Regions from separate parts of the Homo sapiens genome. Here regions 1, 2 and 3 are each linked to region 4. The links come from fine-mapping of genetic effects on gene expression. A gene starts in region 4. Each other region holds a variant in brackets. All regions are shown on one strand. Distances are between the middles of the regions.

The links.
Region 1: its variant is fine-mapped to the expression of GFPT2 in lung (TOPMed, PIP 0.98).
Region 2: its variant is fine-mapped to the expression of GFPT2 in whole blood (TOPMed, PIP 0.94).
Region 3: its variant is fine-mapped to the expression of GFPT2 in cerebellar hemisphere (GTEx, PIP above 0.99). The same link has a PIP of 0.9 or more in cerebellum.

The regions. Positions count from the first base shown.
Region 1 is chr5:180,412,715-180,417,862 of GRCh38, forward strand. No RefSeq gene overlaps it. Among named protein-coding and RNA genes, the nearest start is that of GFPT2, 62 kb to the left of the region's middle. The variant A/G (reference allele first, on the strand shown) is at 2,122.
Region 2 is chr5:180,370,403-180,375,550 of GRCh38, forward strand. No RefSeq gene overlaps it. Among named protein-coding and RNA genes, the nearest start is that of GFPT2, 20 kb to the left of the region's middle. RefSeq lists an enhancer at 1-370. The variant C/A (reference allele first, on the strand shown) is at 3,245.
Region 3 is chr5:180,420,613-180,425,760 of GRCh38, forward strand. No RefSeq gene overlaps it. Among named protein-coding and RNA genes, the nearest start is that of GFPT2, 70 kb to the left of the region's middle. RefSeq lists an enhancer at 3,229-3,728. The variant A/G (reference allele first, on the strand shown) is at 3,190.
Region 4 is chr5:180,350,268-180,355,415 of GRCh38, forward strand. It overlaps GFPT2 (glutamine-fructose-6-phosphate transaminase 2), which reads right to left and starts at 3,069. Exons shown (of 19, transcript NM_005110.4): 1 at 2,944-3,069. The coding sequence starts at 2,950. RefSeq lists an enhancer at 1,223-1,723 and a silencer at 3,096-3,325.

The DNA of each region.
Region 1 (5,148 bases), 62 kb after region 4:
CTGTGCTCCAGCCTGGGCGACAGAGCGAGACTCCGTCTCAACAACAACAAAAAAAAAGAAAAAGAAAAGAAAGATGTTAATAGCAGAGGAGCTGTGCAGAGGGGTGGGTGGCAATGGTGCAGGGGATATATAGGAATTCTCTGTACTTTCTATTCAATTTTGCTGTGAGCCTAAAACTTCTCTTGAAAAATAGTCTATTTTTAGCCGGGTGCCGTGGTTCTTGCCTGTAATCCTAGCACTTTGGGAGGCCGAGGCAGGCGGGTCACCTGAGGTCAGGGAGTTCAAGATTAGCCCGGCCAACATGGTGAAACCCCATCGCTACTAAAATACAAAAATTAGCTGGGCATGATGGTGGCATGCACCTGTAATCCCAGCTACTCGGGAGGCTGAGATGGGAGAATCGCTTGAATCCCGGAGATGGAGGCTGTAGTGAGCCGAGATTGCGCCACTGTACTCCAGCCTGGGCGGCTGAGCGAGACTCCATCTCAAAAAAAAAAAAAAAAAAAAAAAAAGTTTATTTTTAAAAATAATAGGAATTGGGCAGAAAAACAGATCACTAATGCCATTGAGCCAGCCTGAGACTCCTCTCTTCTTTTGTTTCCCTTTGGTATTGCCTGGCCTAGACTCACAGGCTGCCTGAAGCCCAGAAGTAAGTGCTGGATGTGAACAGAAAGAGCTCTAAGAGAAGCCCTTGATGCAAAGAGTGGAGACGGGGGCCCCTAGGTATAACAGAGAGTCGGGGAAATCTACTTGCTTCCATCTCTTCCACCCTGCCCTCCAGGCAGTCTCACAGCGTTGCAGCAACAGTAGCCTCTGGAAGGTACCTGAAACTCTGAGGGAGGAAAACCCTTCCTAACCAGACAGCTGTGGTCCCAAGAGGATAGGGGGACTCCCCACAGCTTTTGTTTTCTGTGTTCTCACACTGCCTGGCTCCACAGGCAGACACAGTGGGAAGAAGTACATGACAGAGCTGGAAAACGAAAGTCCCAACATTCGAGTTAGAAACTCAGGAAGTTTGGGGCGGGGCACGGTGGCTCATGCCTGTAATCCCAGCACTTTGGGAGGCCGAGGCGGGTGGATTGCCTGAGGTCAAGAGTTCAAGACCAGCCATGGCCAACATGGTGAAACCCCGTCTCTACTAAAAATACAAAAAATTAGCTGAGCGTGGTGGCAGGCACCTGTAATCCCAGCTACTTGGGAGGCTGAGGCAGGAGAATCGCTTGAATCCGGGAGGCGGAGGTTGCAGTAAGGCAAGATCCTGCCATTGCACTCCAGCCTGGGTGACAGAGCAAGATTCCGTCTCAAAAAAAAAAAAAAAGAAAAGAAACTCAGGAAGTTTTGGGGTTGGTGGGGTGACTGGATGCAAAAACGTGTTGGAGAGATGACAGAGAGGAAGAAGCTTTAAAAAATCCATCTGATACATATACAATTTTGTCTGAACTCTTGCACTCACCTCTTAGCTGGCCATGTGCATGTATGCATCTGACCCTAAACGTCAGATTGATGGCTTTGAGAGCTAAGCTACAGGGGAGACCACCATTCAGGTCCCAGATTGGCCACTGGGTGCCGCACAGGCAGGACAAATATAAATACCACTGCGAAGGCTTTGAAAAGTAAACTGAGATTGGAATCACAGTACTCAGAAAGCAGGGAAGCACCTGATTGCTAAAACAAGCAAACAAATCTCAACATTCTCCATTAGAGCTAAACGAGACTTAGAGTTCCAGAATGTAATATTCAAAATGTCCAGGACACAAGAGTGCTCAATATATGAAGAACTGGGCAAATCTTGACAACTCTCAAGGGAAAAGACAGTCAACAGATGCCAACCCAGAGATGACACAGATGCTATTAGAAGAAGATTTTAAAGCAACTATCACAGTCATGTTCCAGGAAGTTAGGGCAAACAACCCTTTGAAAGGAGTGGAAAGATAGCAATTTTTAGCAGAGAAATAGAAGATATTAAAAAGAACCCAATGGGAATTTTAAAACTTAAAAAAACTATAACCAGGCCTGGTGTGGTGGCTCACACTTATAATCCCAGTGCTTTGGGAGACTGAAGCAGGAGGATCTCTTGAGGCCAGGAATTTGAGAGCAGCCTGGGCAACATAGTAAGACCTC[A/G]TGTCTACAAAAAATTTAAAAATTAGCCAGATGTGATGGTGTGCACCTGTAGTCCTAGCCACTTGGGAGGCTGAGGTGGGAGGCTCACTCCAGCCCAGGAGTTCAAGGCTGCAGTGAGCTATGATTGGGCCACTGTACTCAGCCTGGGTGACAGAGGAAGACCCTGTCTGTAGTAATAATAATAGACTGGGGAAGAAAATTACTGAACTTGAAGACAGAGCAAACTAAATTACTAAAATGACTGGATGACTACAGAGAACAAAAATGTAGAAAAAAATGAACACAGCCTCAAGCCTGTGAGATATATCAAAGGGCCCAATATTCATGTCATCATAATTCCAAAAGAAAAGGTGAAATAATGAAAAGGAGTGTGAAAAAATTTTTGAAAAAGAATGACTGAAAACTCCCCAAATTTGGCAAAAAAAAAAAACACCCATAAACTTACAAATGTAAGAAGCTAAGTAAAACACAAACAGGATAAACTTAAAGAAATCCATGCCCACACATATCATGTACTGAAACTAATGATAAAGAAATATATCTTTAAAATAGAAAAAAAGGACACACTATAAATATGGAAACATCCATTCAAATAACTGCGGATTTCTGTTTTTGTTTTTGTTTTTGTTTTTGTTTGAGATGGAGTCTCACTGTTCTCGCCCGAGCCGGAATGAGATGGTGGGATCTCGGCTCACTGAAACCTCTGCCTCCTAGATTCCAGCAATTCTCCTGCCTCAGCCTCTCAAGTAGCTGAGATTATAGGTGCCCGCCACCACGCCCAGCTAATTTTTGTATTTTTAGTAGAGACGGAGTTTCACCATGTTGGCCAGGCTGGTCTCGAACTCCTGACTTTCATACACGTCCGTGTGAAGAGACCACCAAACAGGCTTTGTGTGAGCAATAAAGCTGTTTATTTCACCTGGGTGCAGGTGGGCTGAGTCCGAAAAGAGAGTCAGCGAAGGGAGATAGGGGTGGGGCCATTTTATAGGATTTGGGAAGGTAATGGAAAATTACAGTCAAAGGGGGTTGTTCTCTGGTGGGCAGGGGTGGATCTCACCAAGTACATTCTCAAGGGTGGGGAGAATTACAAAGAACCTTCTTAAGGGTGGGGGAGACTACAAAGTACCTTCTTAAGGGTGGGGGAGATTACAAAGTACATTGATCAGTTAGGGTGGGGCAGGAACAAATCACAATGGTGGAATGTCATCAGTTAAGGCTGTTTTTACTTCTTTTGTGGATCTTCAGTTACTTCAGGCCATCTGGATGTATACCTGCAAGTCACAGGGGATGCGATGGCCTGGCCTGGGCTCAGAGGCCTGACATTCCTGCCTTCTTATATTAATAAGACAAATAAAACAAAATAGTGTTGAAGTGTTGGAGCGGCGAAAATTTTTGGGGGGTGGTATGGAGAGAGAATGGGCGATGTTTCTCAGGGCTGCTTCGAGCGGGATTAGGGGCGGCGTGGGAACCTAGAGTGGGAGAGATTAAGCTGAAGGGAGGTCTTGTGGTAAGGGGTGACATTGTGGGGATGTTAGAAGAAACGTTTGTCGTATAGAATGATTGGTGATGGCCTGGATACGGTTTTGGATGAATTGAGAAGCTAAACGGAAGATACAAGGTCCAAATAAAAGGAGGAGAAAAATGGGTATTAAAGGACTAAGAATTGGGAGGACCCAGGACATCCAATTAGAGAGTGCCCAAGGGGGTTCAGCATAATTACTTGCTTGGTTGGCAAGTTTTTGGGCTCTATCCTTGAGTTTTTTTATGTTGTCATACACCAGGCCAGATTGATTTAGGTAAAAACAACACTCCTCATTTAAGAATATGCAGAGTCCTCCTTTCTCAGCAGTAAGTCAGTCAAGGCCTCGGCGGTTTTGGAGGACAACTGCAGCTAACGAGTCAACTTGGGCCTGGAGGACTGATAAAGTTTGTGATTTTGAGGGCCTCTAAAAGTATTAAAGCAGCAGCAGCCGCTGCACGCAGACATGAGGGCTAGGCTAAAACAGTAAGGTCAAGTTGTTTGGACAGAAAGGCTACAGAGTGTGGTCCTGGCTCTTGTGTAAGAATTCTGACCACGCTAACCATGCCTAGGAAGGAAAGGAGTTGTTGTTTTGTAGAAGGTGCTGGGGTTTGAGAGATCAGTCGGACACGATTGGCAGGGAAAGCACGTGTGTTTTTGTGAGAATTATGCCGAGATAAGTAACAGATGAGGAAGAAATTTGGGCTTGATTGAAGTAATGGGGGCTGTCTGTGAAGCTTTGCAGCAGTACAGCCTTGGTAATTTGCTGAGCCTAATGGGTGTCAGGGTCAGTCTAAGTGAAAGCAAAGAGAGGCTGGGACGAGGGGTGCAGGGGAATAGTGAAAAAAGCATCTTTAAGGTGGAGAACAGAATAGTGAATTGTGGAGGAACGGATTGAGGACAAAAGAGTGTACGGGTTGGGCACCACAGGGTGGATGGCAAAACAATTTGGTTGATAGGACGCAGATCCTGAACTAATCTGTAAGACTTATCCAGTTTTTGGACAGGTAAAATGGGGGAATTGTAAGGAGAGTTTATAGGTTTTAGAAGCCCATGCTGTAGCAGGCGAGTGGTAACAGGCTTTAATCCTTTTAAAGCATGCTGTGGGATGGGATATGGGCGTTGAGCGGGGTGAGGGTGATTAGGTTTTAATGGGATGGTAATGGGCATGTGATCAGTTGCCAGGGAAGGAGTAGAGATGTCCCATACTTGTGGGTTAAGGTTGGGGGATATGAGAGGAAGATGCGAAGGAGGCTTTGGGTTGGGGAGAAGGGCGGCAATGAGATGCGGCTGTAATCCAGGAATAGTCAGGGAAGCATACAATTTGGTTAAAATATCTCGGCCTGATAAGGGAACTGGGCAGGTGGGGATAACTAAAAAAGAGTGCATAAAAGAGTGTTGTCCAAGTTGGCACAAGAGTGGGGGAGTTTTCAGGGGTTTTGAAGCTTGGCCGTCAATACCCACAACAGTTATGGAGGCAGGGAAACAGGCCTTGAAAAGAAGGTAAT
Region 2 (5,148 bases), 20 kb after region 4:
GCGCCGAGGCTGGCTTTCAGAACAAAGGCAGCAGCAGGCTGGGGAGGTGAGGAACATGGTTGCGCCTGGTTGGATAGGTGCCAGTGGACACCCCATTCTGCAGTGGAGAGGTACATGGGCACTTGGATATGTATCTGGGGCTTAGAGAAGGAGCTGGGCTGGAGGCTGGTCAGAGTCGGGGGACCTGGATGGGAAGAGGTGGAGGGCGGGGACGGGGAAGATGCAGAGGAACCCGTGCCAGGAGGCCTGATCTGCACTCAGGTGCCTGCTCCTGCTGGCCTGTGACTTTGGGCAAGCCCCCACATCTCCTGGAGCCTTGATTTCCTCATCTGTAAAACGGGGCTGGGAAGGCCTAGCTCCCAGGCAGTCATGAGGACAGAAGAGAACAGGCTCTGCAAACTGCGTGGCACAGCGTGCATGCTCAGAGGACAGTGAGGAAGCCTGCAGGCAGGGCAGGGGCCAGGCCAGAGAAGGTCCCAGAGCCACAGCTCAGGGAGGGGCAGGCTGTCCATGGGGAGGGGCAGCTGCTTCTGGTTCCCTGTGAGCTAAACTCAAGTGTCCCTGGTGGAGTCCGATGGGTGCGGCTCAAGCTGGGGAAGGACGCTCCGTCAGTGGGGGTTCTGCAGCGGGGTCACTGCCAAGAACAGCTGCAAAGCCACCCTGGCGGTGGCATTCAGAGCCTTCATTATTTTCTTCAGAACACACAGCTGGGAAATAAATGATCACTGGCTGCAAGGATGGGTGTTGGCCAGATGGCCTTTCTGTCACCCCTCCCAGCTAAAAGGGATTTTGGGAAATTGTCTTGTCATCGGATGAGGAAAATGAGCTGTGTGCTGCCTGTTTTCAGATCGCGAGTGAGTCAGACAGTGGTGGGGCTACAGAGAGTCTCAGGCCTTTGGACCAATCCACCCACTGGACAGATGGGAGAGGGGCCCGAGAGGCTGGGCGCCTTGTGTGGATCATCCGGCAGGTCAAGGGCCCTCGAGGTGGCCACCAGCTGGTGCGGACTCCTGCCTTCAGGTGGAGCTGCACTCCGGGCTTTGGCATGAGCTCCAGGCCACCAGCTGGTGCGGACTCCTGCCTTCAGGTGGGACTGCACTCCGGGCTTTGGCATGAGCTCCGGCACCCCCTAAACTTGCCTGCGGCCCACTTAGGGATGCTTTCAGAGGGGCCCACCGTATCCTGGAGTCGTGGTGTGAGAGGTTTTGCGTGTGTGTGTGCGCACGCAAAGGGGGAGCTGGAGGCCGGGCATGTGTGATCTCCAGGGCCACGAGTGGTATGTGAGCTCCATTCTCTAATGGCAGGGAAAGTGGATAGCACAAGAAACTGCTGCTCCTCTTCCAGGCCTTGGCGGTTGCTGTTTCCCCGGCCTGAAGGCTTCCTCCCTTCCCAGGTGGCTCTTGTCCCCACTTCAGAGAAGCCTTCCTGACTGCTCCGTTGACAGCAGTCACCTAATTCAACCTGGCTACTTGCCTGACGCCCAGACCCTGCCCAGTGCCCCTGGGGTGCCCCCTTGCAGGCCAAGCCGCAGCTTCCATCACCAGGCCTTAGCCAAGCTTCCATCCTGTTTCCAGCTCCCTCTGGGAGGACCCTGGCTGGGCGAGCAGGGCCTTAGTAACCTCCCTCCTAGAGGAAGGGACAAGCTGGGGGGCCAGGGCTGCCCCTGGGATCTGAGGAGTGGGGTTGGGCAGAGGCAATCAGGTGTCTTACTGGGCCTGAGAGGGCGACTGCACAGCCTCATTCCTCCGCTACCAACCACTGAGACGGTGCAAAGCTCAGGCCTGGGCTGAGAAGCAACTGCCCAGCAGGCGCTTCCCCCAGAGAGCTCCATTTCTGTGGCCTCCCAGGCATGGCCTCCATACCTGGAACCCTCTCATGGCAGGGAACAGGGCTGCTTTGAGCCTGCTGGGTTAGGGTTTGGATCTCTGCTCTGATCCCAAGGCTCTTCATTGCTAGCTCAGCTCTCTCCAGACATGTGGACTCACATGTGAAATGGGAATTATACTCCAGCTCAATAACTTGTGAGGATAACATAAGAGAAGGTAACAGGAATGTTCATAAAATTCTATAGTAAATTTAAGTATTTTCAAAAAAAATAGAAATCAAGCAAAAATATTTTTCTGGTTACAATAAGAGGATAATTAAAAAAAAAAAATCTCTGCCAGGCGTGGTGGCTCACGCCTGTAATCCCAGCACTTTGGGAGGCCGAGGCAGGTGGATCACGAGGTCAAGAAATCGAGACCATCCTGGCCAACATGGTGAAACCCCGTCTCTACTAAAAATACAAAATTAGCTGGGCGTGGTGGCGTGTGCCTGTAGTCCCAGCTACTCAGGAGGCTGAGGCAGGAGAATCACTTGAACCCAGGAGACGGAACTTGGAGTGAGCCGAGATCATGCCACTGCTTTCCAGCCTGGGCAACAAGAGCAAAACTCTGTCTCAAAAAAAAAAAAAAAAAAACCAAAAAAAAAAAAAAAAGAAAAAAGAAAAAAAAATAAGCCTAGAGCAGAAGAGGACATTAGAACTGAAACTGTGGGCCAGGCGCGGTGGCTCATGCCTGTAATCCCAGGACTCTGGGAGGCCGAGGTGGACGGATCATGAGGTCAGGAGATGGACACCATCCTGGCTAATGTGGTGAAACCCCGTCCTACTAAAAATACAAAAAATTAGCCGGGCGTGGTGAAGGGCGCCTGTAGTCCCAGCTACTCGGGAGGCTGAGGCAGGAGAATGGTGTGAACCCGGGAGGCGGAGCTTGCAGTGAGCCGAGATCGCGCCACTGCACTCTAGCCTGGGCGACAAAGCGAGACTACAACTCAAAAAAAAAAAAAAAAAAAAAAGAACTGAAACTGTGTAAGAACGTGTATATTAAAACCTATAAGGTGCGGGATGCATACACAGTGGTATTCACAGGAAAGTTCATAGCCTAAAAACATCTTTTAGAAAATATAAAAGAAGAAAACTCCTTGCAAGCAGGGCTTTTTTTTTTTTTTTCTTTTCTGTTTTGTTCACTGATATATGCCAAGTGCCTAGAGCCGAGGAGGCGGAAGAAGCTGAGGAGGACAGAATGGGGCAGGCTCTGTGGTCAGGAGAGGAGGAGGAGGCTGCTGGAAACTTTGAGGACTGAAAACTCAGGGCCAGACTAGATAAGGGCCATTGTGGCTGGTGCCAGCTGGATATTACGAACAGAGAACAAGATCGTCCCCCAGACCAACCTAGTGCTTTCTACATAGGGTCACCGCATAATTT[C/A]CTGTCTAAACCAGGGACTCTGAGAGTAAAGAGGTGTGTTGTTTGTAACCATGCCAAGACAACAGAAGTAAGCTGGGACTGTACCCCACAAATCAGTTGTGAGGCCACTTTATTCTCACGAAATCCCAGAGAAGGCAGGGGCAGATATGTGTGACGCATGTGTGTGTGAAACCCTGAACTAATGGAGATAACCAGAAAACTGAAATTGAACTCCATCCTGGTGGAATGGGGCACAAAATTCAAATTAAACTTAGTTGTAGGCTTAGTTATGCTGGCTCATGCCCGTAATCTCAGCACATTGGGAGGCCGAGGCAGGAGAATCACTTGAGCCTGGGAGTTTGAGATCATCCTGGGCAACACAGCAAGATCCCATTTCTACAAAAATGAAAAATGAGCTGGGCATGGTGGCACATGCCTGTAGTCCCAGCTACTCAGGAGACTGAGGCAGGAGAATTGCTTCAGTTAGGAGTTTGAGGTTGCAATGAGTTATGATCAAGCCACTGCCCTTGAGCCTGGGCAACAGAGTGAGACTCTTATCTCCGAAAAAAAATAGTTATAGAAAAAAATAAGCAGTTACATTTTATATTCCTGCAGGATACAGGTGGCACCCTCAAAATAGGTAGTTTGAGAAGATGTTAGTAGAAGGTGTGTGAAGGTGAGGACAGGGTGTGAGGAGAACACAGGCAGTACTCTGGTGCTAGTAACAGCAGGGAACCGTTACTGTTTCTAGGCCAGAAGGAGCAATGGGAGAGAGAAGTTTCTGGAACTCTGAGGCTGAAAGGGCTGTGTGGAGTTTGTCTGATAGAAGCTGTGACCTTCGGCTGTGGGACGCAGGAGGCCCTGCAGGAAGGATTTTCTTCTTCTCTCTCCCTCCAGTCTTCTGCTAAACACCTCCCTTGGGCTGAACCCCACTCGAAGTGACAAGAAAAAAGAGCCCTTTCCATGTGACCCATAACCAGCCTCCTGGAATACAGAACAGGATGGAGAAAAGTGGAGGGTGGGTCAGGAAAGGTAGATGGAAGATCTCCAAAACAGCTCACCCCTTCTCTCCTCAGCACCCAGTTCATTCAGGTAAAACTTTATGTCACCAAAGAGGGGTACAGTAATTCCTGATAGCAACAGCAGGGTTGGCGACTTTTTCCAGAAAGTATCGGATAGTAAATACTGAAGTTTTGTGAGCCATATCATCTTTGTTGCAACTCAGCTTGGCTGTGGCCGTGGACAATCCATACGCGAATGAGTGTGGCTGTGTCCCAATAAAACTTTGTTTACAAAAGCAGATGGCAGAGCAAATCGGGTTCATAGTTTGCTAAACCCTGAGCCGTAGTGTCATTGTGGGGTGGGGTTGGCTCCTTGGTTTGGTCCTACTGGAAACCGAAAATGTTAGCCACCACCCATGTTTTTCACATGTGATAGCATGTTTTTAACACGGCATAGGAGAGAAACAACAGGTCAGAACATGGCTGCCCAAGCCTTTGCTTTGCTGGGAGACCTGGGGTGAAAATCTCACTACAAATACCCAGACTCAGGGGCAGTGGCAAACAGCTTGATTGCCTGGGCAGGATCCGGAAAGAATGAGATTGGAAATTTGGGGGCCAGGTGGTCTGGAGGCAAGTCGTGTGGCTGGGGCACTTGTAATGGGCACAGCATGATGATATTGGCAGCTTCCGTGAATACCCACTCAAGGGCATCCACAGTGGAGGAAGTGTCCCAAATGCCTACGTCCCTAGGTCTCCAGACTCAGTGTGCCAGGACATTCCAACATTTCAGCCATGTTCCTTCAAAGCTTCCATCAGCCAACCCGCAGACCGATAGCATCTCTCCCTCCTCTCCAGCCGGCACATCACATCCAGCGGGACCATAGGGTGTGTCCATGTCAATGACTGTGGGCTGACTGAATCTCA
Region 3 (5,148 bases), 70 kb after region 4:
CATGGCACACAGAAGAGAATGGAAGACTATTGTTAAATTGTGGGAAGGAAAGAATGGTTCAATATGGAATTTCAGATCTAGTAAAAATATTCTCCAGGAATGAGGTGAAATAAAGACATTCTCAGAGGAAGAGAAACTAAGATAATTTGTCACTGGTACCCTACCTTTCAAAGATTTTAGAGGAATTTTTTTGAGACGGAAGGGGAATTATATAAAAAGGAAACTTGAAACAGGAGGAATAAAGGAAGAAGAACATTTACCTATGTATGGGTAAATACATAGGCTATTCTTCTATTAGGTCCTTTAAAATACTTTAAAACATGTTTGATGTTAAAAATAAAAAAGTGTCCAGGCACGGTGGCTCACACCTGTAATCCCAGCACTTTGGGAGGCCGAGACAGGTGGATCACCTGAGGTCAGGAGTTCAAGACCAGCCTGGCCAACATGACGAAACCCTGTCTCTACTAAAAAATAAAAATAAATAAATAAAATTTTGCTAGGAGTGGTGGCGGGCGCCTACCACTCAGCGGGAGGCTGAGGCAGGAAAATCGCTTGAATCCAGGAGGTGGAGGTTGCAGTGAGCCAAGATCGCACCACTGCACTCCAGCCTGAGCAACAGAGAGAGACTCCGTCTCAAAAAATAAATAAAGAAATAATAAAAAACTATAAGTAGTGCTGCAGTAAACATATTGTTTCATGCGTCCGTGTGAAGAGACCACCAAACAGGCTTTGTGTCAGCAACAAGGCTGTTTATTTCACCTGGGTGCAGGCGGGCTGAGTCCGAAAAGGGTCAGCAAAGGGTGGTGGATTATCATGGTTCTTATAGGTTTTGGGATAGGCGGTGGTGTTAGGAGCAATGTTTTGCAGGCAGGGGGTGGATCTCACAAAGTACATTCTCAAGGGTGGGGAGAATTACAAAGAACCTTCTTAAGGGTGGGGGAGATTACCAAGTACATTGATCAGTTAGGTTGGGACAGAAACAAATCACAATGGTGGAATGTCATCAGTTAAGGCTATTTTCACTTCTTTTGTGGATCTTCAGTTGCTTCAGGCCATCTGGATGTATAGGTGCCGGTCACAGGGGATATGATGGCTTAGCCTGGGCTCAGAGGCCTGACACACATGTGTGCAAGTGTCTTCATAACAGAATGATTTATAATCCTTTGGGTATATACCCAGTAATGGGATCGCTGGGTCAAATGGTAATCCTGGAACTTAAAGTAAAATACCAAGTAATAAATAAATAATATATAAATAATAAAATAGAAATAATAAATAACATATAAATAATAAATAAACTATAGCATTACCTGGTGGGGCTCCTAATGCAAATAGATACAACACATAAGACAACTACGGTGTAAAAGGAGAGGGTGTGGTGAAGGTCTTTGTATTCTATTTAAAGTCAAAATGTTGATTCTGAGCAGACAGTGAAAAGTTGTATATACAAATCACAATCCCTAGTGTGATCACTAAAAAACATGCAAAGATACATATCAGAAACAGGCTGGGCGCGGTGGCTCACATCTGTAATCCCAGCACTTTGGCAGGCTGAGGCAGGCAGATCAGGAAGTCAAAAGATCGAGAGCTACTCGGGAGGCTGAGGCAGGAGAATCACTTGAACCTGGGAGGTGGAGGTTGTAGTGAGCCGAGATGGCACCACTACACTCCAGCTTGGCAACAGAGCGAGACTCTGTCTAAATAAATAAATAAATAAAATAAAAAAGATATATGTCAGAAGCATATAGATAAATTAAAATGGAGGCCAGGCGCAGTGGCTCACGCCTGTAATCCCAGCACTTTGGGAGGCCAAGGCAGGTGGATCACCTGAGGTCAGGAGTTCGAGACCAGCCTGACCAACCTGGAGAAACCCCATCTCTACTAAAAATACAAAAATTACCCAGGCGTGGTGGGCACGCCTGTACTTCCGGCTACTCGGGAGGCTGAGGCAGGAGAATTGCTTGAACCTGGGAGGCAGAGGTTGCAGTGAGCCGAGATGGTGCCATTGCACTCCAGCCTGGGTGACAAGACAGAAACTCCATCTCAAAAAAAAAAAATTAAAATGAAATATGAAAAAATTCTCAAATAACTGAAAAGATGGTATCTTCAGGCTGATAACCACACTGTCTGGATCATTGTAAGTTTAAAAGTCCTGAAATCTGGTATGGGTTAGTCCTTCATTGTTCTCAAAAGCTATCTTGGCTGTTGTAGGTCCTTCACATTTCCATAAGAATTTTAGAATCACCTAGTCAATTTTCACTAAATAGCTTCCTGGGATTATGACTGAGATGGCACTGAATCTGTAGATTAACTTTGGTAGAGCAAACATCTTAGCAATAGAGAATCTTCCAGCACATGAGTGAAGTATATCTCCCCATTTATTTAGATAGTCTTTAATTTTTCTCAGATATGGTTTGTAGTGTGAATACACAGGCCTTTCACATATTTTCTCAGATTTGTCATATTTTAATGCTATTTTAAATGATGTTTATCTTTAACTTCAATATCTCATTTTTCAATCCTGATATGTAGAAATATAATTAATTTTGTATATTTATTTCGAACTCTGCAATCTTGCTAAACCCAGTTATGAATTCTAGTAGGGTTTTTTTTTGTTTTGTTTTGTTTGTAGATTTCATCATAGTTTCTCCATAGGGGATCATGCCATCTGTGAATAAAACCATTGTTTTTTTCTTCTTTCCCAATTTGGATGACTTTTATTTCTTTTTTATGCCTGACTGCACTGGCTAGAGCCTCCAGTGCAATCCTGAGTGGAGGTGGTGAGGGTGAATATTTTTGCCACATTCCTGGTTGTAGGAAAAGGTATTTAGCCTTTCAGTATTAATATTATGTTAGCTGGAGGTTTTCCATACGCTCTTTACCAGGTTGAGGAAGCTCCCTAGTTTGCTGAAACTTGTTTTTTATCAGGAGTAGATGTTGGATTTTGTCAAATGCTTTTTCTTTAATTGATTGAGGTGATTATATGATTTTTCTTTTTTAGTTTCTTAATATGGTGTACTAGTTTCCTATGGTAACAGATTACCACAAACTTGGTGTCTTTAAAACACAAAAATTGATTCTCTCATGGTTATGGAGGCTAGAAATCTGAAATCAAGGTGCCAGCTGGGCCATGCTCACTCAAAGCTCCAGGGAAGAACCTGCCTGCTGTTTCCAGCGTCTGGTGGCCCC[A/G]GGCCTTCCCTGGGTAATGGTGGCGCAGCGCTGATCTCTGTCTGCCTTCACCTTCACACGGCCCTTCTTGTTTGCCTCTGTGGTCACTTCTCTCCTTACAAGGACACCAGTCATTGGACTTAGGGACCACCCTAAATTCCGGACAGTTTCATCTGAGATCCTTAACTAATTACATCTAAAAAGACTATTTCCAAATAAGGTCACATTCTGAGGTTCTGGGTGGAAATGACCTTTTTTTTTTTTTTTTTTTTTTTGAGACATGGCCTCGCTCTGTTGTCTAGGCTGAAGGGCAGTGGCACGATCACAGCTCACTGCAGCCTCAAAGTCCTGGACTCAGGCAATCCACCTGCCTCAGCCTCCCAGGTAGCCAAGACCACGGGTGCATACCACTACACACAGCTAATTTTTAAATTTTTTGTAGAGGCAGCATCTTACTATGTTTCCCAGGCTCATCTCAAACTCCGGGCTCAAGCGAGCCTCCCACCTCAGGCTCCCAAAGTGCTGGAATTACAGACATGAGTCACTGTGCCCGGCTGACACACAGTTGTTTTTTTTTTTTTTTTTTGAGACAGAGTCTCGTTCTTGTTGCCCAGGCTGGAGTGCAATGGCACAATCTCTGCCCACTGTAATCTGCACCTCCTGGGTTCAAGCAATTCTTCTGCCTCAGCCTCCCTCGGGAGGCTGGGATTATAGGCATGTGCCACTACACCAGCTAATTTTGTATTTTTAGTAGAGATGGGGTTTCTCCATGTTGGTCAGGCTGGTCTCGAACTCCCGACCTCGGGTGATCCACCTGCCTCAGCCTCCCAAAGTGCTGGGATTACAGGCGTGAGCCACTGCGCCCAGCCAACATACATTTTTGAGGGACACTAGTCAACCCACTAAACATGACATATTTTATTCGATTTTTGAATGAATGCTAAGCCAAACTTGCCTTCTTGAGATAAACCCCTATAGGTCATAATGTATTAATCTTTATAAGTTAATCTTTATAAACTTTTCTTTAAAAAATTCATCTATATTCATTAGAGATTTTAGTCCTTAATTTTCTTTTCTTGTAATGTCTTTGGATGATGATAATTATTATTATTTTGAGATGGAGTCTCACTCTGTCTCCCGCGCTGGAGTTCAGTCGCAGTATCTTGGCTCACTGCAAGCTCTGCCTCCTGGGTTCAAGCAATTCTCCTGTCTCGGCCTCCCAAGTAGCTGGGATTACAGGTGCCCGCCACCATGCCCAGCCTTGTCTTCGGTTTTGATATCAGCATAATAGCAGCCTCATAGAAATAGCTGGGAAATATTCTCTTCACTTCAATTTTATGGATTTGTTTGTGTAAAATCGTTATTATTTCTTATTTAAATGTTTGGTAGAATTCCCCAGTGAAAGCACCAGGGCCTGGAGTTTTCTTTGTGGGTGAGTTTGTAACTACGAATTTAATTTCTTTAATAAACAAAGTGCTACTTAAGTTATCTGTTTCTTCTTGAGTCATTTTTAATGTCTGTGGCTTCCAAGGAATTTGTGCATTTAATCTAGGCTTTCAAATTTATAGACAATATGTCTTTCTTTCTTTCTTTTTTTTTTTTCTTTTTTTTTTTTTTTTTGAGATGGAGTCTCACTCTGTTGCCCAGGTGGGAGTGTAATGGTGCTATCTCAGCTCACTGCAACCTCCACCGCCCAGGTTCAAGCAATTCTCCTGTCTCAGCCTCCCGAGTAGCTGGGATTACAGGCACCGACCACCACGCCTGGCTAATTTTTGTATTTTTAGTAGAGACGAGGTTTCACTGTTGGCCAGGCTGCTTTTGACCTCCTGACCTCAGGTGATCCACCCACCTCAGCCTCCCAAAGCCCTGGGATTACAAGCGTGAGCCACTGTGCCCGGCCTATATATATATATAATATATATAATATATAATATATAATGTACATATTATATATAATGTATATATTACTTATAATGTAAA
Region 4 (5,148 bases):
CATCTTCAGATTTTGTCAAGAGAAGCCAAAACTCCCACCTACTTATGTGAAATCTCCCAATTTTGTACTTTGGTAACTAATAGAGGAAAAGGTTTAAACCCTGTGCACCAAACAAAAAGATGTCTGTCTTCCCTGTTCGGCCAGTACTCTACCAGGCTGTAGCCCGTGCTCAAGGTCCTCCCTCCACAGCAGCACTGCCCTGATCGGCATCCCGTCCCTGCTGGTGACCAGTCTCTGGACTAGCCCTGCGGCTCACCTGCCCCTTCTTTGAGGGGAGGACCACACCCATGAGATCTTCGAGTCCCCCAGGGCCTGGAAAACACTGGGCATTTCCACTAGTGGCTGAATGAAAAAGGAAGCAGAGAAGGAAAGGAGAGAGACAGGGAGGAAATATTGTAAATTTTCTGTCGCAGAAAGTCAGCAAAATGCCAGCAACTTTCAGATGTCAATAAAACCAAAGTGTCATTTCAGCTAAATTCTCAGTGCACTGAAAGTTTTTGAGAATCATCTGCTGTTTGTAGAGGATCAACTACTGCCGAGTCCTGGCTTCCCATGAGAGAAGCAGCAGGATAAAGGACAGCAAGACATAATCTCAGCAGTGTCATCAGCCAAGTGATAAGGAAGGGCCTTAGGTCTCCGCCCCTGAGGGAACGGCCCAGGAGATCTGAGACCCGAGGCCTGCTCAGACGCCAGGTGCGCACAGACTTCGCAGGGCCTCAGCTTCCCCAGCGTAAAGTGAAGAGCTTATCTGGTTCTTTCTAGGAGCATCTTCACGATTCTTGCAGTATCCTTGTACTAATAGCATAATCACTACTTTTTCTTCTGCAGAATTTGATTAAATTTTCAAAAATTTAAATGAATTCATGCCAAAAGAAAACAACCATAAAAGGAAAATCAGTATCACTTGTCATACATACTCAGACCATCATCCCCCCCAAACAGACCAATGTATTCAATTCTAGCCAGCTGCTGCTGCCTGCTCTGAGCCAGGAATGGCTTCCCCTCTGCACAGGATACTTAAGCAAGTGTCAGAGAGATGTTAAGGACACGTTAGCACCAAGTTGAAACTTTCTCCTGATGTTCTTGAAAAGGAAATAACTTTCCCATGCAGGGATTCCACGACTTCCTGCTGAGCTGTGCCCTCCCCACTTCCCCCACCCTGCCCCCAGCCCCAAATCAGCAAATCTGGGAATTCTGAGAAGGCACCTAAGCCAGCACGCACTCTTTGATTCTGGCTCCGAGTGGGCACCCCCATGGACCGCAGCCACTCCTGAGCCCTGGGTGTCCTTTGGGGACCTCAAGCTCCTTCTCACATACAACCACAAGTCAGTACCAGAAAATCTGAAGATACAGGTGGTCACACCCCAAAGCTCAACCTTTCCCTAGGAGACAACGCGTGTGTGTCCCTTTAAGAAGCAGAACAAAAACACTTGTGATTTTGTGAGCTGGAGGAGGTAGAGCCCCCCCAAAGCTCAGAGAGACTTGGGAAAAAGCAAGATGCCAGTAGGAAGGAGGATGACAGGCAGGGGTGGCAGTGGGGGCAGAGGAGCATCTGAAAGGAAGGGGAAGGGGAGCCTCTGGTGCTGTGGGCAGACCCTCCTGGTTCAAGGGTCTCCTGCACAAGTCTGGCCCCAAGGCCACCAGTTTTGGCCAAGGGTCTTGAATGCTACACTGAGAGGTGTGGAACATCAGGGCTTGGACATCTGGCAAAACTACCACCTTTGCCTCATCTCTGCCCCCAGAAACACCCAAAGGTGGCTCTACACATGGAGAATGGCGTCTGGGAGCACGAGATTTTAGCTGAGGGTTCAGGAATTTCCACGGATGCCTGTTCAGCCTGGGTGAGGCGGCATCCCGAAGCACGCTGCCCGCTCCGCCGTAGGTCGTTCCCTTCTGCCGAGCAGCTGGCCTCCGAGACAAGAGGCCTGCACAGACCTCGGCCAGGGCTCACCGCGGGCGCACCCCACCCCGGCCCTCAGCAAAGTCAGAGAGAGGCCTTTCATGGCTTCGAAAGTTCCTCCAGGTCCTCCAGCCACAGGAGGCTGGAATGGGTAACCGAATCCTACTCAAGGAAAAAAAAAAAAAAAAAAAAGAGCACAGTGACCTTTTGTCCCAGCAGAAGTTCCCGGCTCTCTCCCGGCCAGCGGAGGCGGCCCAGCCAGGAGAGTAAAGAATTGCAGATGTGCGCTCCGGGCCGCGGCCGCCCTCCCCACGGTCCCGCAGCCACGCGGGACAGCGCGGGAGCGCCGCGGGAATCGGACGCCCGGCCCCGCTCCCCGCCCCGGACTCCCTCTCGTGGCTTCGGGCCGAGGTTCGGGCAGTGACTGCCTCTTCCCCGCGCAAAGAGGCGGTAACGCGGCAGCGACCCTTCTAGGGACCAGACGTTCCTTTGGGGTCGCGAGGAGGACGCGCAGGCCCTGCCTGAGGCACTGACGCAGCGGGGGCGACCGGGCGGGCTGCGGGGACGGCGGGGCGGGGTCGCCTCTCCTCTCCTCGGTGGGCGCGGCGGGCTGAGTCGGGATGGGCGCCCCGCACTCGGGATGCGCCGGCCTGCGCGTGGCCGCCTTTGTGGGCGACTGGGAGACGTGGAGGAGAGCGACCTCGGTCGGCATGGGGTGGGGACCCCTCTGTTACGGGGTCCAGGCCGGACCGGACCAGGTCCCTCCCCTCCGTGGGGACCGGGCCTCGGTCCCCCTCACTGTGTCCGAGACCAGGAGTCGGGTTGGGCATCCCCCACCCACACCTCCGAGACGGCCACTCGGGGAACGCGGGTGAGGGGCAGCCAGGCCCGGCCGACGACAGCCCCTCGGTAGGGGCCCGGGGCAGATCGGCGCCCCCAGCCAGGTCCTCGGCGCCTGCTTGCGGGCGGAGGCGCGGAGAGGCTGCGGCGCCGGGACCCGCGGACGGCGTGGAGGAGGCGGCTCGGGCGGGCGCGGCACTCACCGCACATCGTGGCTGCTTCTCGGGCTCCTTCGCGGCTCGAGGGGGTCTGCCCGTTCGGACGCTGGGGCTCCTCCGTGGGCTCCTCCGTGGGCTCCGTGGGCTCCGTGGGCTCCGCGGGCTCCAGCTCCCGTCCGCTCGGCCTCCAGCCCTTATAACCCGGAGCCCTCCGAGAGGGCGGGGAAGGGGGCGGGGAAGGGGCGGGGCTTCCCCCGCCCGCCTGCTCCCATTGGCCCCCGGTTGTCGTGACAACGACGGGACCCGGCCCCCAGGAGCCAGGGAGGGGGGCCGAGGGGCGGCTCCCAGGCGCGGGTCGGGCGTGTAAGGCTGGGGCGCCGGGCGCCAGATCCCGGAGCGGGGCTTAGGGCAACCAACGGCCCGAGTTCAGACCCCGACTCAACCAGAGTAGGCGTGGAAGCCGGGCAGGGCCCGATCGCGCTGTGCCTCCGCTTTCCCGTCTGTGAAACGGGGCTACCCAGGGAAGCTCCCTCCCACGGGGTGCTGAGAAGTCAGACGGGCCGCGTAAGGGGCAGAGCGAGGGGTCCGGCATCACTCGCGCGCTCCGGAAACCCGCGTGAGCCGCTGTTCCTGCCGCGCTCCCATCTGAGTGACAGGCTTGTTTCAGAGCTCCGCAGACCTCTAAGCCTGGCCCTCACCCTGCGTGGAGAGAACGCCCGGGCTTGGCGGAGAGACGAGAAAACCGAGGCTCCCGGAGGCAGACAAGGACTCTGCCAAAACCGGACGCCGCGGCGGTGGCAGAATTCGACCCTGGGATTTGCCGCGGAGCCCGAGCTTGAAGGCGAGGGTTCCGCAGGTTGTGAACGAAGCTGGAGGCGCCCCAGGAAGCCCCGACCCCACCCGCGCCGAGCTGCCCCCTCCCCAGATCTGCCTCGCGCTGCAGGCCCGCGAGGGACCCGGGGGTTCCTACGCCTGGGGTCGGAATCCGACCCCCCAGTGAGGCACCAAGGCCCGCGTTTCTCCGCCCTGGTTCCCGGCCGTCCCTCCCGTTCCCCCTGCACTCTGGGCCCCTCGTCTCCCGAGGAAGGTCACGAGAACCGGCCCAACGTTTGCGCACTTTGAAGTTTTTTTTTTTCTTAAAAAAATCCTGAAATTCTAAACGGATCCTCCTCAGTCGTGTAAAAAAAAAAAGATTTTTACATCTCGTCTAGAGCATTTTTCTAACATAATCCCTCCCTAGTTTCACCGCGACTCTGCAAGCCCTGGGGGAAGGAGGTTGTGCCATTGGAGGGTTGGGAAAACTGAGGCTCCACGACAGCGAAGGAGGGGGCTTGGGTGAGTCCTGTTGTTGGGAAATCTCAGAGCGATTCAGGAGCCGCAGCGTTTGCCCCCAACCCTCCACTATGCAGGGTCGCTTTCCTTCCTTCCTTCTCTCATTCCTAAGAACCCACTTCACACCTGTCAGGGTGCAGGTGCAAGAGACTTATTGATGAATGAGAACAGATCTGGCCCTGCCCTCCTGGCACTTACAAGTGAAGGGGAAGCAGACACTAAGCTCGTGGTTACACAGAGAGCTAAAAATTCCAGGTAGGATACAAGGAGGGGGCTGGGCCAGCGGTGGAGAGGGTGCCAGGCTCTGCCTGGGACTGGGCAGGGCTGCGCTGGTGCAGGTGGTCCAGAGCCTAGCGAAGCCAGGAAGGAGGGAGCAGCAGGCAGTGCAAAGGTCCCCTGGATGAGGGCTAGAACTTGAATGTGGAGATCAGGTTGTTTGGCCCAGACTGGCCTCCACTGTTGTAACTGAGGCGGGGACAGGGTGATGTCAACAGGCCCTCTGATAGCACCAAGACCCCAGGAGCCCTGGGGTCTTAGCAGGGTCCAAATCTGTCCTTTATCCTCCTGGAGGAGTCACAGGTCCACGGTGAGGAACGGCATGAGTGCACACTACCACCCATGGGGATGTGTCTGTAGCAGCTGCCGGCCTAGCATCACTCCTGCTTTGAGAACCCTCTGAGAGTCATCTGGGAGGTTGATGGCCTGGGCCTGGCCACACAGCCTGGGCAGTGGTTCAGAGGTCAGCATATGGCCCAGGCTGGGACGTTGATGACCTGCTCCAGCACATGAGGGAAACCAGCAGAAAAGATGAACTTGGCCTGGTACAGTGGCTTGGGTCTGTCATCCCAGCACTTTGGGAGGCTGAGGTGGGAGAACTGCTTGAGGCCAGAAGTTGGAGACCAGCCTGGGCAACAGGGA